Linked DNA regions of Homo sapiens: regions 1 and 3 are each linked to region 2. The links come from fine-mapping of genetic effects on gene expression. A gene starts in region 2. Each other region holds a variant in brackets. All regions are shown on one strand. Distances are between the middles of the regions.

What was found. PIP is the estimated chance that this variant, and not a neighbour inherited with it, causes the effect. A credible set is the group of variants that fine-mapping cannot tell apart.
Region 1: its variant is the best candidate, but not a certain one, in a credible set for the expression of STIM1 in whole blood (TOPMed, PIP 0.55).
Region 3: its variant is the best candidate, but not a certain one, in a credible set for the expression of STIM1 in monocytes (TOPMed, PIP 0.79).

The regions. Positions count from the first base shown.
Region 1 is chr11:3,885,942-3,890,941 of GRCh38, reverse strand. All of the region lies in intron 1 of STIM1 (stromal interaction molecule 1), which reads right to left. Among named protein-coding and RNA genes, the nearest start is that of PPIAP40, 5.1 kb to the left of the region's middle. The variant C/G (reference allele first, on the strand shown) is at 2,406.
Region 2 is chr11:3,853,211-3,858,210 of GRCh38, reverse strand. STIM1 (stromal interaction molecule 1) reads right to left here and starts at 2,547. Exons shown (of 13, transcript NM_001382567.1): 1 at 1,802-2,547. The coding sequence starts at 1,940. STIM1-AS1 (STIM1 antisense RNA 1) reads left to right here and starts at 2,633. Exons shown (of 2, transcript NR_183662.1): 1 at 2,633-2,854; 2 at 3,553-3,888. It overlaps MIR4687 (microRNA 4687), which reads right to left and starts at 2,149; the gene lies at 2,070-2,149. RefSeq lists enhancers at 1,632-1,681, 1,692-1,771, 1,922-2,131, 2,347-3,292, 3,502-3,571 and silencers at 2,352-2,511, 2,572-2,631, 3,112-3,161.
Region 3 is chr11:3,897,875-3,902,874 of GRCh38, reverse strand. The region is part of intron 1 of STIM1 (stromal interaction molecule 1); the gene reads right to left. Among named protein-coding and RNA genes, the nearest start is that of PPIAP40, 6.8 kb to the right of the region's middle. The variant G/A (reference allele first, on the strand shown) is at 2,442.

The sequences.
Region 1 (5,000 bases), 33 kb before region 2:
ACAAGTTTAGAGCTCAAGCTGGTATTGTACATAAACAGTATTTCATGGAGCTTTAGACTTCTGGCCCAATACCTGGAGAGGTGAAAGTCCTAAGGATGGGGTCCTATCCCACTGCTCAAAGAATGCCTTCTAGAAGCAAAATCAGGAAAGCACTACCTCTAGTTGACCTAGCTGATAATGAGATAAGCCATACTAGAAAATACACTTAAATACAATATGCTTTTCTTTTTTTTTGCAATAGAGTCTTGCTCCATCACCCAGGCTGGAGTGCAGTGGCGTGATCTCGGCTCACTGCAACCTCCACCTCCCAGGTTCAAGCGATTCTCCTGCCTCAGCCTCCTGAGTAGCTGGGATTACAGGCGTGTGCCACCATGCCCGGCCACAATATCCTTTTGAGCTTAAAACTTCAGTCAAATCTTCCATACCAGGCTGAGAAAACTGGTTCAGTCCAAGGGACTGGCCAGGAGAAGCCATGAGTCTCTGTCAGTGCTACTGGGTATGTAGCTCTAACAGGGGTGATACAGAAAAGTTCTTAAGACTTCTGAGGTACCATAAATTACCTTCAGCAATCTCTGTGACAAACTTAAAGCCTCTTGGATATCCAGCTCTATATAAGGACCAAAAGAGGATGATCACAGAAATCACAGATTTGGAAAAACTAGATGAACCTCCAGAGATCACCACTTGGACTGGCCCCTGCTCTCAGATTGCAAAACACCTATCATTAGGCTTGTTTTACAGATAATGCCACTAAGGTCCAGAGAGGGTAAGCGTGATGGCCTAGGTCAGATATCTAAGAGGCAGTAAGAAAGAAAAAAAGAATATCTAGTCTCAAGGAGTAAGCAATCTTGATGAAAAAGTAACACTCATGAAACTGTCGAAACACATGGTCAGGGAATAAGGGAGATCCCAATGAGGAGCTACAGGTATGGAAAGAAGGACAAGAGTTGAAGTCTCAGAGTAAAAGTCCCTGCCCAATGTACCTCTCACAAAGTAAAAAGGCCCGTCTTTGCTTAATATTTACTACCCTGTAATGCCTATTTACCTGTCTCCCCACTCAATAGTAATTCTTCCAGTTTATGTACCTTATATTATCCTTATCTATATTTTCAGCACCAAGCCTAGAAAACTGCATCTCCTGCAACTTTGAAAAGACTCAGACTAGCCCCACTCACCCAACAATACTAAAAACAAGGTTACCCTGTTAGGCATCTACCAAACCTAGAGGCCAGACCCTCAAAAAAGCGCCTAGATACGGCTAATAGAAAGTGACTTTAACAAGTAATTTAACCTCTTATTTTGTCCATCTCAAAGATATCAATAACATTAACAATCTCAGAAGACCGTATTAAAAATTAAGTATCCACGGTGAAACTCCATCTCTACTAAAAAATAAAAATAAAAAAATTAGCCAGATGCGGTGGCGTGTGCCTGTAATCCCAGCTACTCTGGAGGCTGAGGTAAGAGAATCGCTTGGACCCAGGAGGTGAAGGTTGCAGTGAGCCAAAATCGTGCCATTGCTCTCCAGCCTGGGCGACAAAGCGAGACTCTATCTCAAAAAAAAAAAAAAAAATTAAATATCTGTGAAAGCACTTAACACAGTACTTGGCACATAGTAGGCATTCAATGACTGCTAGCTTCCTTCTCACACCCCCTGTGTCTGGGTTCCTTTAAAATATAGTTTATTCCTTGGATCAACATTTATTAAACAACAAATATTTATTTGTTGGGCCTCAGGGATAAGATAATGATCTTGCCTTAGGTATCTCTGATAAAACCTCAGCATCTAGTATGATGACTGCTGTTGCCACAGCTGCCTGGCACATAGTAAGCACTCACTAAACAGGGAACTCCCAAGAACACTCCTGGATACAGACCACTGATGCATCACCTCTTTGTACAGGCCACTCCATCTGCTTTGTTAGCCCTAGAGGTGTGCAAGCACAAAAGAGATCAAGTCTCTGGACAGCAGCAGATCTATACATTTACAGAGCTCCACCCCCATAGTAAAGCCTGGCAGTCAAGATGACAAGAAAAACACAAGAACAATTCAGATGAGTCCCTCAAAACTGCATTAAAGACTACACGGCGGCCGGGCATGGTGGCTAACACCTGTAATCCCAGCACTTTGGGAAGCCGACACGGGCGGATCACTTGAGGTCAGGAGTTCAAGACCAGCCTGGCCAACATGGTGAAACCCCGTCTCTACTAAAAATACAAAAAGTCAGCTGGGTATGGTGGTGCACACCTGTAATCCCAGGTGGTGTGCACCTGTAATCTCCAGGCTTAGGCAGGAAAATCCCTTGAATCTGGGAGGTGGAGGCTGCAGTGAGCAGAAAGCACACCACTGCACACTAGCCTGGGCAACAGAGGGAGACTCTGTCTCAAAAATTCAAAAAAAAAGA[C/G]TATATGGCAATGTTCCAAACTATACAGCCTCTCTACTTAAAACCTGGGTTATAATATTAAACTGACCACCCACCCTCACATTTCCTATACTGCCCCCTGAAAGAAAAGGGAAGTGCTTCTTCCTTTCAGTGCTGCTTGTTCAGAAAAGCTGATGTCCTGGAAAATGGCTGAGCACCTATCCTGGCAAATAGGATCTAGCAAAAGCTTGAACCCCATAAAAGCATCTCAATCATTCACCTTGCTGGCCTCCAAGGCTGAAAATAGCCCCAAATGAAAAACAAGCTATGTGAATACTTATCTAGTTTCATAGCAGAGACCTTAAGCTAGCTGAAGAGGACAAACCCCTCACTCCTTAACTCAAGCAGACCTAAAAGCCTCACCTGTTTCTGGCCCCATAGCAGCTGGCATAGCTCTGGCACCTCCCAGGCTTCATCTTTCAAAAACAGAAATGGAACAAGTGCAGAACAGGGAAGAGCCTTCTGCAGTCAGCCCAGCACTGCTTGAGGGGTGGTGGGGAGATAAAAAGATTCCTGGACACAGATGTCCTATTTTTTTTTTTTTTTTTTGAGACAGAGTCTCACTCTGTCACCCAGGCTGGAGTGCAGTGGTGCGATCTCCACTCATTGCAACCTCCGTGCCTCCCGGGTTGAAGCGATTCTCCTGCCTCAGCCTCTCAAGTAGCTGGGACTACAGGTGCATGCCACCACGTCCGGCTAATTTTTTGTATTTTTAGTAGAGGCAGGGTTTCACCATGTTAGCCAGGATGGTCTCAATCTCCTGACCTCGTGATCCGCCCGTCTCGGCCTCCCAAAGTGCTAGGATTACTGGTGTGAGCCATTGCGCCTGGCCACAGATGCCCTATTCTTTCATCAAATCTGAAAACGAAATGAAAGGCCCTAAAGCAGCCATACCCCAAAAGTAGCATTCTGTACCTCCGCTTCATCTTCTGGCAATAACCTTAACAGGTTTCTCTAACCAGGCCCTGTCTCAATGCCTTTTTAAAGGTAGGTTTACCTAATCCCAAGACAGAGTCAGTAGGTCGGCACTCTGATATATCAAATCCATCTCTGTCTATTACATACCTTGACCCATGCCATTACAGTCCATTGTTTCCAGGTTCACCTCTCACAATATATTAAGCACTTCTAGATGTATGGCCCAGGTTTCATAATGCCCATGTTTCCAGTTTTGCCCAGTGCAAGGCCAGGCTGAGAACAGATGCTTAAAGGTTTATTTGTTGCAGGGCAAAAGTGAGCAGGTACAGAAACAGGGAAGGAAGTATAAGGACAAGAATGTATCCTGCTTTACTCTCCCTAGAGGCCCTCACCCAGTGCATGCTGCCCTCTGGACCTAGACTCAGGCTGGGTTTCCCAAGCCTCCTCTCTTATTACCAAACTCACAGCCCTCTACCTCCTCTGACTGTGTACAATACTAGTCCCTGGACCCTTTTCATCCTAGATGTTTGTTTCACCTCTGGATATATTTGGAAACTCCTTGAGTATATGGCCCGTCTCTCTTCTTTTTTTTTTTCTTTGAGACAGAGTCTTGCTCTGTCGCCAGGCTGGAGTGCAGTGGTGCGATCTCGGCTCACTGCAACCTCCGCCTCCTGAGTGAAAAGTGATTCTACTGCCTCAGCCTCCTGAGTAGCTAGGATTACAGGCACCCGCCACCACACCTGGCTAATTTTTTGTATTTTAGTAAAGACGGGGTTTCACCATGTTATCCAGGATGATCTCGATCTCCTGACCTCGTAATCCGCCCGCCTCGGCCTCCCAAAGTGCTGGAATTACAGGCATGAGCCACCGCACCCGGCCAAATAAGACCTTTTTTTTTTTTTTTTTTTTTTTTGACACAGAGTCTCGCTCTGTCACCCAGGCTGGAGTGAGGTGGCGTGATGTCTGCTCACTGCAAGCTCCACTTCCCAGGTTCACGCCATTCTCCTGCCTCAGCCTCCCGAGTAGCTGGGACTACAGGTGCCTGCCACCACACCCGGCTAATTTCTTGTATTTTTAGTAGAGACAGGGTTTCACCATGTTATCCAGGGTGGTCTCGATCTCCTGACCTCGTGATCTGCCTGCCTTGGCCTCCCAAAGTGCTGGGATGACAGGCGTGAGCCACCGCGCCCAGCCAAGTCTCTCTTCTTATAGCACAAAATACAATACCAGCCTCAAGGAATTATACCAGTAGCTATTTACAGAGTTAAAAAAAAAATCAACTTCCCTCAAGTTTTTAATTGCTCATGTGTGAAAAGGTGAAAAGAATGTCTCACCAGATTGCTCCTCCCTCTTAGGTTATCCGTCTTTCTCTATTTTATCATTGGGTTCCCAGTGAATTTTCTATAAAGAATTCAAGCCAAATGGTTTAGCACCTATATTTGGCCTATAATGTGTGATATTCAAGATATCATCGGAGATAACAATTCATTCTTTATATCCCACATCCCTCAGACTATGGGAAATGACTCACCCATGCCAATCCTTAATCAAAGGCAGGAAAAGTCCCCTTGAGCCAAAGCAGGACAATGCTATATCCTCAACACCTTCATTGATGGGCCCTTGCCTACGATCATGCTCAAACTCACATCGAAAACTGGA
Region 2 (5,000 bases):
CTACATTCAAAATTTCATCCCTTTAGCTTATGTCTAAAATATAGAACACCCACTCTCCAAAAAATATTCATCTTATGTCAGGCACTCATATTTTGGAGTGAAAAAAGACATATTATCAGTTATAAATAGGAATGTCACAGGGACAGGAAGAGATGATAATTAGGTCTACTTCACAGTTCAATCTACATTTGCCCACTAGTCTTTCCCTTCATAGCCCAATAAGAACCAAGCTTTCAGCCAGGTCTCAAAGGTCAAGGAGACTCTCTATGGAGAGACAGGATTAATAGGCAAAAAGGATCTATCTAGAAAGCAACAGCCAGGTATCCTACTTACACATGGGCAACCCTGGCCTCATTTGGAAACCAGACCTCTTGGAACATCTGGAACTTAAAAGGGTATTGCCCAATAAAGGGTCTACCACCAAAGCCAGCTTCTGGATCCATCCATGAAACTCCCCAGCCACCATGACCTATATTTCCTTTTCTGACTTGTATCAGCAGGTGCCCACTGAGCCATTCCCTCATTTGAACTTGCTTATGCTCAGAAACAACTCATCTATAAACTCTCCCCACACTGCAGGTCACAGCTTTGGGCAGATCACAGCCAAAGGGTGAGAGAAATGGGAAAAGAGAACTGATCTCGTAAGCCTTATGTAAAATGACTGGATTTTAATAGAGTTCCTTGATGGGTACAGTGGCTCACACCTGTAATCCCAGCACTTTGGGAGGGATCCCTGCACAACACAGAGAGACAGTGTCTGTTCAAAAAATTAAAAATAGAAAGAAAAAAAAAGTTAGCCAGGCCCAGTGGCTCTTGTGTTTAGTCCCAGCTACCGGGAGGCTGAGGCAGGAGGATCACTTGAACCCAGGAGTTTGAGGCTGTAGTGAGCTGTGATCACACTACTGCATTCCAGCTTGGACGACAGATCAAGACCCTGTCTCAAAAAAACAAAACAAAACATAAAAGTGTTCCTTTCTACTGCAAAAGTATACCAGGGCTCCTGCTGCCTGATAAGCCTTCACAACTGCATAGGAAAAACCATGACAGATCAAAAGTAGCATGGTTTCCCTAGCAAGCAGACTCAGGGAAAAAAAAAAAAAAACAAAAAAAAAAACCTGTAGCATGGAATTCCCACCCTCATCAGTCAGAAGAAACAGAATAAGTCAACAAGTGGTCCCAGGAATTATATCATGTCTATGTCAAGAAAAGGCCATTTAACACCCTAGTTGTAAATAGGATTCCATCTAAGAAACCGCCTGGATATTTCAAATGCGCACAGCAAAGAGACAAGACTACCTAAGGGAAGGGTGGGACTAGGGTTCCCACGGTTGTTGGAATAGGCACACCTGAACACCAGGCTTTCAGGCAACAGAGGTGGCCCAGCCTTAACTTTCCCTTTCCAACATAAGTGGCCCCAACCTCCCCCATGCTGCTCAGTACTAAAACCGAATAGGAGCAATGAACTTATCATCTCACCAGGCCATTCTTCCAGACAAGTAGGCCTAAGATGGGGTCTTTCCTTGCTGATCTAAAAGGTCAAGTTGCCCCAAAGGCTTCTTCTTACTGCCAACAAAAAAAATCCTGAGTGCGGGGGATGAGGAAAGTTGTTCAGGAAAGATACAGGCATTTGCCATGACTACTGACCAGAAAGAACTTCTTGAACTACTTGGAACAGGCAGTGCCATGTGTGAATCCTCCATGAACCTCACATGTACAAACCTAGATTTCAACTTGCCCACTTCGGGCCACTCAGTCCTGAGCCAAAGCCTCCAGCCCAGTCCAGCCCGCAGCAAGGCCTTACCTGCTGCAGTGGACTCCTCAGAGTTGGCCCCCGAGCTGGTTCCTGTCGCCTTCTCACTGTGACTATGGCTGAGGCTCTGGCCCTGGTGCAGGAGGAGTCCCCAGAGGAGCCACAGGGCAAGACGGACGCATACATCCATGACTCTAGGTCTCAGTCAACATGCGTCTGATGTGGACACCTCGGGATCCCAGAGGCAAAGCCAGGAGCCCGGGAGTGCAGCCGACGGTCTCCAGGCAAGATGCCCTCGCGGCTCCGCAGCTGTCCAGCCACCCGCGAGCCTGCCCCCTCCAACAGCCAAAGGTCAAGTGCTCCAAGTTTGGGTGCGGGAGGAGGGCTGGCTCCTCAGGTCCAACAGTGGGTCCGCCGGGGCTGCGGCGGCCTGAGCTCGTGCCGCTTCCGGAGACTTCGGGCAGGGTGGCTGCGGGGCTGCTGTCAGCTCCGCAGATTACTACACCCCTGCGGAAGGGGGCGGCCGGAGTCTCCGCGGGCACAGAAGTGGAGGAGGAAGAGAAGAGAAGAGAAGAGAGGCGAGAAGGGGGCACCTGACCTCGCCCTGCCGAAGAGCGGCGAGCAGCAGAAGCTGGGGAGGGCGTGCGACCCGCAGGGTCCTGAGGGCGCGGGCGTCTCCGGGATCCTGGGCCTCCTAGGCCGAGGTCAGCGCCCCCGCCCAGTCCCGTGCCCAGGCGGCTGGCGGTGCCCAGGTCCAGCAGGCGGACGCACACCGGCCAGGCCCAGGACAGCGGCTTCCAGGCGGGCGGGCGGCGCGGGGCGGGCCCGGGGCGGGCGGGGGCGTGCGTCTCCGCGCCCGCCCCGCGCCGCCCGGTCCCCAGCGAAGCCCGGGCCAGCCCCAGCGCCCAGCTGGATCCCGGAATAACCGGTGAAGACGGCTCCCCGGAATCCCCGCCCCTAGCGGGCTCTCCCGGACCCCCGGCCCGCGCTAGTCTTTGCCAGGATCCCGCGCAAAGGATCAAGTCCCAGCTTCCCTTTCCCCACCGAGAGTCTCCAGCGCCAACCGCGGGCCGTCGGGCGGGTCCCTGACCCGCAGTTACTCAGGTAACTCAGGCCTGCGGCGGCGGCGACAGCAGCTGCCCTGCCCCGATCTCCGGGCCTTGGTGCTGCTCCACTCGCCTCAGTTCTAGAGCTGTCTAAACAGAGGCCCAGGACACGACGTTAGCCTCCCAGGAGCTGCCTGAGGCGACAACAGCCTGACCCGGCTCGGCCCGGGGGCGAGCTCCCAGCCCCCAACTCCCGGCCAGTTCCCAGGCTCCGCCCTCGCGCCTCGCCTGACAACCAATCGGCTTCCGCCTCTCTGCGGCTTGGGAACCCGCGCGCTTCGTCGCCCATGCGCAGCGGCCCCTGGTGGGAAAATCAGCAAACTGCAGACAGGACTCGGCGCTCCTGGGAGGGCCTGCTCTTTTGCAGAGGGTTGCCGAGTGAAGCTAAGACCCGCCCCGGGGGAGGCCCACGAGGGCCACTGGGGCCTGCGAGTGTTTTCTGAGGAAATGATGATGCCAGAAAGCAAAATGAAATGTCCAAACCACTCTAGCTAAAATTCCCCTACACATTCCTTGAGTCTGGGCTAAAGGGTGCCATCTGCTTTCCCGACCCCGCCTCCCTTCCCCTCCAAGCTAAGTGGGATGCCCTCCCTTAGCTCTCACAGCCCTTTTTCCTACCTGCCCTCAAGCTCTCAGCCCTTTAAGGTTTTTCGGTGGGGCCTGTAAATGCTTCCTCCCTGCATCTCATTCTCCCAGCTACCTCTCTGGTGGAGGAGGTGTCAGCGACTTGAGAATGAGTGCGCCAAAGAAGACAGAGCCACGCCTGAGCCTCCTTCAACAAAGCCTGCACTTCCTGTTCTCTTCTCAAGCGTGCTGTCAGCAGATCTTGACTGAAACCTCTGTGCCCTACCCTGTCCTTGGCACCAGACGCAGGGGAAAGGATCAGGCCCAGTCCCTCCTCTGACTGACAGTGCTAAACCAGCTACCTGTTCTGAGCAAGGCCCCTGAAGACTGGGAACACGAATTTGCCCAACAGCTGCCTGGCTTAAGGGTTAGGCCGTTGATATAAAAATACATGGCTAATGTAACCTACTACCACTCTCCCGGCTCTGTTAAGCTCCTGTCACACTAGCCTTCGTTAAGTTCCTAACCACGTCAAACTCAGCCACCTCACAGCCTTTGTATCTGCTGTTGCTTCTGCATGAAACACTCTCGCCTGCTCCCAGTTCCTCATGTAGCTGGTCTCTTACTCTTCCAGATACAGCTCAATGTGTCTCCTTAGAAACTTTTACTCTGCCCACCCCTTCAAAATCAGTCTGTGGCCAAAATTGGACCATTACATCTGTCTGCCCCTCCCCCAACAGATAGTGATTGCCACTTTTCAGGTCAGAGACTGTGCCTTATTCATCTCTGTGACACTAGGACCCAGCCATAGACCCTGCACATAGTAAGTTCTCTGTAAAAGCTGGATTACATGAGTTAATTCACTTGAACACTCAGATACTAAAAACTAATACCGGAATATTGGAAAATTGACCAGAACAGTTGAAACCCTACCTAGGTTCTCCTAGACCTATTCTCTGAGCCAGGGGTCTTAAATTCAAATGGCAAAATGGGCAGGTAGGTAATTCAATTAAGAAAAGTAGGTAGGAGTAATACGGAGTGGTGGGGACTGTGGAGAGCAGGCAGAAAGATGGGCCTAGTATTGCTGGAGTGTCATTAAGAGAAGATGGGGCTGGGTGCAGTGACTCATATCTCTAATCCCAGCACTCTGGGAGGCCAAAGTGGGAGGATTACTTGAGCCCATGAGTTCAAGACCAGCCTGGGAAACACAGTGGGACCCCCATCTCTACAAAAAAAATTTTTTTAATTAGCCATGAGTGGTATCTGGCTTCTGTGGTCCCAGCTACTCAGCAGGCTGAGGGGGGATGATCGCTTAAATCCAGGAGCTCAAGGCTGCAGTGAGCCATGATCACACCATTGCACTCCAGCCTGGGCAACAGAGCAAGACCCTGTCTCAATTAAAAAAAAAAAAAAAGAGAGAGAGAGAAGATGGAAATCTGGACTTTCATATGACATATCCTTTTTAAAAAAATATTAGCAATTCGTTTAAAAGGATAAAACCTTATATAGGCCACAGAAAACATGTCTGCAGCCCAGATTAATCACTCAGACTGACAGTTGATCATTTCTACCTAAGCCAG
Region 3 (5,000 bases), 45 kb before region 2:
CCTTTGCCTCTATCCACAACACCAATTGCAATCTGCCCAGCTCCTCCTTCTGGCAATGCTACCTTCAGCTGGCCAGAAATTAACGCCTTCAGCAGTCTCACAGGTGGTGTCATGCCTAAGAGCAGTACAGGATACCACCTTCTCCTGAGCATTCTATTCCCTATGCCAAGGGTCCCCAACCCTCAGGCTGCAGACTGTACCAGTCCGTGCCTTGTTAGGAACCAGGCCACACAGCAGGAGGTGAGCGGCAGGCAAGCGAGCATTACTGCCTGAGCTCCGCCTCCTGTCATATCAGTGGCAGCATTAGGTTCTCACAGGAGTGCAAAGCCTATTGTGAACTGCACATGCGAGGAATCTAGGTTGCGTGCTCCTTATGAGAATCTAATGCCTGATGATCTGAAGTGAAACAGTTTCATCCCAAAATCATCCCCACCCCGCACCCTGGTCTGTGGAAAAATTATCTTGCATGAAACCGATCCCTGGTGCCAAAAAGATTGGGGATCGCTGCTCTCTGCTCACTCCTATTTTCACTCAGGTCATTTTCCAATCTAAATGCCTCCCAAGCTTCTGCAGTATATAAACTTAAACAGAGTTTTAGGGATTAGTTAAGTCACACCATCCCAGGAAGCTACAGTAACTCATAAAAATATCTGCCTTCCCTTAACCTCTAAAGTCCCAATGTGTAACTTATACTTCCACACTCATATCTAATCATCTCTATTAGATTAAGTTCCATGAGGCAGTGTCTGGTTTTCCATCACTACATCTCCATTACCCAAGAACAATAAATGTTTAAGAAATGTTGGGGGCCAGCCACATTGGCTCATGCCTGTAATCCCAGCACTTTGGGGGACCAAGGCAGGAAGATTGCTTGAGCTCACGAGTTCGAGACCAGCCTGGGCAATATGGCAAAACCCCGTCTCTACAAAAAATACAAAAATTAGCTGGGCATCGTGGCACGTGCCTGTAGTTTCAGCTACTCAGGAGACTGGAGCCTGGGGCAGGAGGATCACCTGAGCCCAGGAAGTCAAGGGTGCAGTGAGCTGTGGCTGCACTGCTGGAGTGTACTCCAGCCTGGGCAACAGAGCGAGATGCTATCTCAAAAGAAAAAAATGAAGAAGGCTTAGGCAAACAATAAAAGCTCAGTTAGCTAAATCTCCTACCACTGAGTCTGAGACATAACCAGGGACTGGTGGATTAACCAAGATCTATACCTTTCTACAACAACAACATGGAGAAAACTATATCAGCAATCTCATAGAGCTATTGTGAACACAAAGATGTAATCTATGTTAAACACTTAGGAGATTTTCTGACACATAAGCTGTCATTAAGTATCTCATTTTCTCTTTGAAAAGGAGCCATGGAGGTACCTTGTCAACTAAAGGACAGCTGGCCATACTACTTCTCCAAGTCATACTAATAGAAAAGCAGGGGACCACACTGTGTTCATTTACCTAATGGTGTTCTGTGGAACACTGGTATCTAACAAAATGTCAATAGGTGGTTTTTGAGGATAAAAAAAGATTACATGTTCAGAAAAACATAGAAAACCCTGTATACCTTTCCTTATCATATTAAAGCCTCCTAGCTTTTCCTAACTTAATCTCAAAGGTCTTTTACTGAGTAATAATAATAATGCCATTTCACCTGATACTGACATTCTGAAGAACACTTATTTTATTTATTTTTTTGAGGCTGAGTCTCTCTCTGTCGCCCAGGCTGGAGTGCAGTGGTGTGACTGCAGCCTCCGCCTCCTGGGTTCAAGCAATTCTCCTGCCTCAACCTCCAGAGCAGATGGGACTACAAGCGCACACCACCATGCCCGGCTAATTTTTGTATTTTTAATAGAGACAGGGTTTCGCCATGTTGGCCAGGCTAGTCTTGAACTCCTGACCTCAAGTGATCCGACTGCCTCAGCCTCCCAAAGTGCTGGGATTACAGGTGTGAGCCACCGTGCCTAGCCACTACACTCATTATATCTTAAAACAATGCATTGGGCCAGCCACAGTGGCTCATGCCTGTAATCCCAACACTTTGGGAAGCCAAGGTGGGAAGACTGCTTGAGTCCAGGAGTTCAAGACCAGCTTAGGCAACAGAGTGAGAACCCATCTCTACAAAAAATATATTAGCCAGGCATGGCGGGGTGTGCCTGTAGTCCCAGATACTTGGGAGGCTGAGGTGGGAGGATCATTTGTGCCCAGAAGGCTGCAGTGAGCTGTGATCGCAAACCTGCACTCTAGCCTGGGCAATAGAGGGAAAGACTCTGTCTCAAAAAACAAACAAACAGGTCGGGAGCCAAGATGGCCGAATAGGAACAGCTCTGGCCTACAGCTCCCAGCATGAGCGCTGCAGAAGATGGTGATTTCTGCATTTCCATGTGAGGTACCGGGTTCATCTCACTGGGGAGTGCCAGACAGTGGGTGCAGGACAGTGGGTGC[G/A]GCGCACCGTGCACGAGCCGAAGCAGGGCGAGGCATTGCCTCACTCGGGAAGTGCAAGGGGTCAGGGAGTTCCCTTTCCTAGTCAAAGAAAGGGACGACAGACGGCACCTGGAAAATCGGGTCACTCCCACCCCAATACTGCGCTTTTCCCACGGGCTTAAAAAACAGCGCACCAGGAGATTGTATCCCGCACCTGGCTCGGAGGGTCATACGCCCAGGGAGTCTTGCTGATTGCTAGCACAGCAGTCTGAGATCAAACTGCAAGGCAGCAGTGAGGCTGGGGGAGGGTCGTCTGCCATTGCCCAGGCTTGCTTAGGCAGAGGTACAAGGAGGAACTGGTACCATTCCTTCTGAAACTATTCCAATCAATAGAAAAAGAGGGAATCCTCCCTAACTCAATTTATGAGGCCAGCATCATCCTGATACCAAAGCTGGGCAGAGACACAACCAAAAAAGAGAATTTTAGACCAATATCCTTGATGAACATTGATGCAAAAATCCTCAATAAAATACTGGCAAACCGAATCCAGTAGCACATCAAAAAGCTTATCCACCATGATCAAGTGGGCTTCATCCCTGGGATGCAAGGCTGGTTCAATATACACAAATCAATAAATGTAATCCAGCATATAAACAGAGCCAAAGACAAAAACCACATGATTATCTCAATAGATGCAGAAAAGGCCTTTGACAAAATTCAACAACGCTTCATGCTAAAAACTCTCAATAAATTAGGTATTGATGGGATGTATCTCAAAATAATAAGAGCTATCTATGACAAACCCACAGCCAATATCATACTGAATGGACAAAAACTGGAAGCATTCCCTTTGAAAACTGGCACAAGACAGGGATGCCCTCTCTCACCACTCCTATTCAACATAGTGTTGGAAGTTCTGGCCAGGGCAATTAGGCAGGAGAAGGAAATAAAGGGTATTCGATTAGGAAAAGAGGAAGTCAAATTGTCCCTGTTTGCAGATGACATGATTGTATATCTAGAAAACCCCATTGTCTCAGCCCAAAATCTCCTTAAGCTGATAAGCAACTTCAGCAAACTCTCAGGATACAAAATCAATGTACAAAAATCACAAGCATTCTTATACACCAATAACAGACAAACAGAGAGCCAAATCATGAGTGAACTCCCATTCACAATTGCTTCAAAGAGAGTAAAATACCTAGGAATCCAACTTACAAGGGATGTGAAGGACCTCTTCAAGGAGAACTACAAACCACTGCTCAGTGAAATAAAAGAGGATACAAACAAATGGAAGAACATTCCATGCTCATGGGTAGGAAGAATCAATATCGTGAAAATGGCCATGCTGCCCAAGGTAATTTATAGATTCAATGCCATCCCCATCAAACTACCAATGACTTTCTTCACAGAATTGGAAAAAACTACTTTAAAGTTCATGTGGAACCAAAAAAGAGCCCACATCGCCAAGTCAGTCCTAAGCCAAAAGAACAAAGCTGGAGGCATCACGCTACCTGACTTCAAACTATACTACAAAGCTACAGTAACCAAAACAGCATGGTACTGGTACCAAAACAGAGATATAGATCAATGGAACAGAACAGAGCCCTCAGAAATAACGCCGCATATCTACAACTATCTGATCTTTGACAAACCTGAGAAAAACAAGCAATGGGGAAAGGATTCCCTATTTAATAAATGGTGCTGGGAAAACTGGCTAGCCATATGTAGAAAGCTGAAACTGGATCCCTTCCTTACACCTTATACAAAAATTAATTCAACATGGATTAAAGACTTAAACGTTAGACCTAAAATCATAAAAACCCTAGAAGAAAACCTAGGCATTACCATTCAGGACATAGGCATGGGCAAGGACTTCATGTCTAAAACACCAAAAGCAATGGCAACAAAAGCCAAAATTGACAAATGGGATCTAATTAAACTAAAGAGCTTCTGCACAGCAAAAGAAACTACCATCAGAGTGAACAGGCAACTGACAAAATGGGAGAAAATTTTCACAACCTACTCATCTGACAAAGGGCTAATATCCAGAATCTACAATGAACTCAAACAAATTTACAAGAAAAAAACAAACAACCCCCATCAAAAAGTGGGCAAAGGACATGAACAGACACTTCTCAAAAGAAGACATTTATGCAGCCAAAAGACACATGAAAAAATGCTCACCATCACTGGCCATCAGAGAAATGCAAATCAAAACCACAATGAGATACCATCTCACACCAGTTAGAATGGCAATCATTAAAAAGTCAGGAAACAACAGGTGCTGGAGAGGATGTGGAGAAATAGGAACACTCTTACACTGTTGGTGGGACTATAAACTAGTTCAACCATTGTGGAAGTCAGTGTGGCGATTCCTCAAGGATCTAGAACTAGAAATACCATTTGACCCAGCCATCCCATTACTGGGTATAACCCAAAGGACTATAAATCATGCTGCTATAAAGACACATGCACACGTATGTTTATTGCGGCATTATTCACAACAGCAAAGACTTGGAACCAACCCAAATGTCCAACAATGGTAGACTGGACTAAGAAAATGTGGCACATATACACCA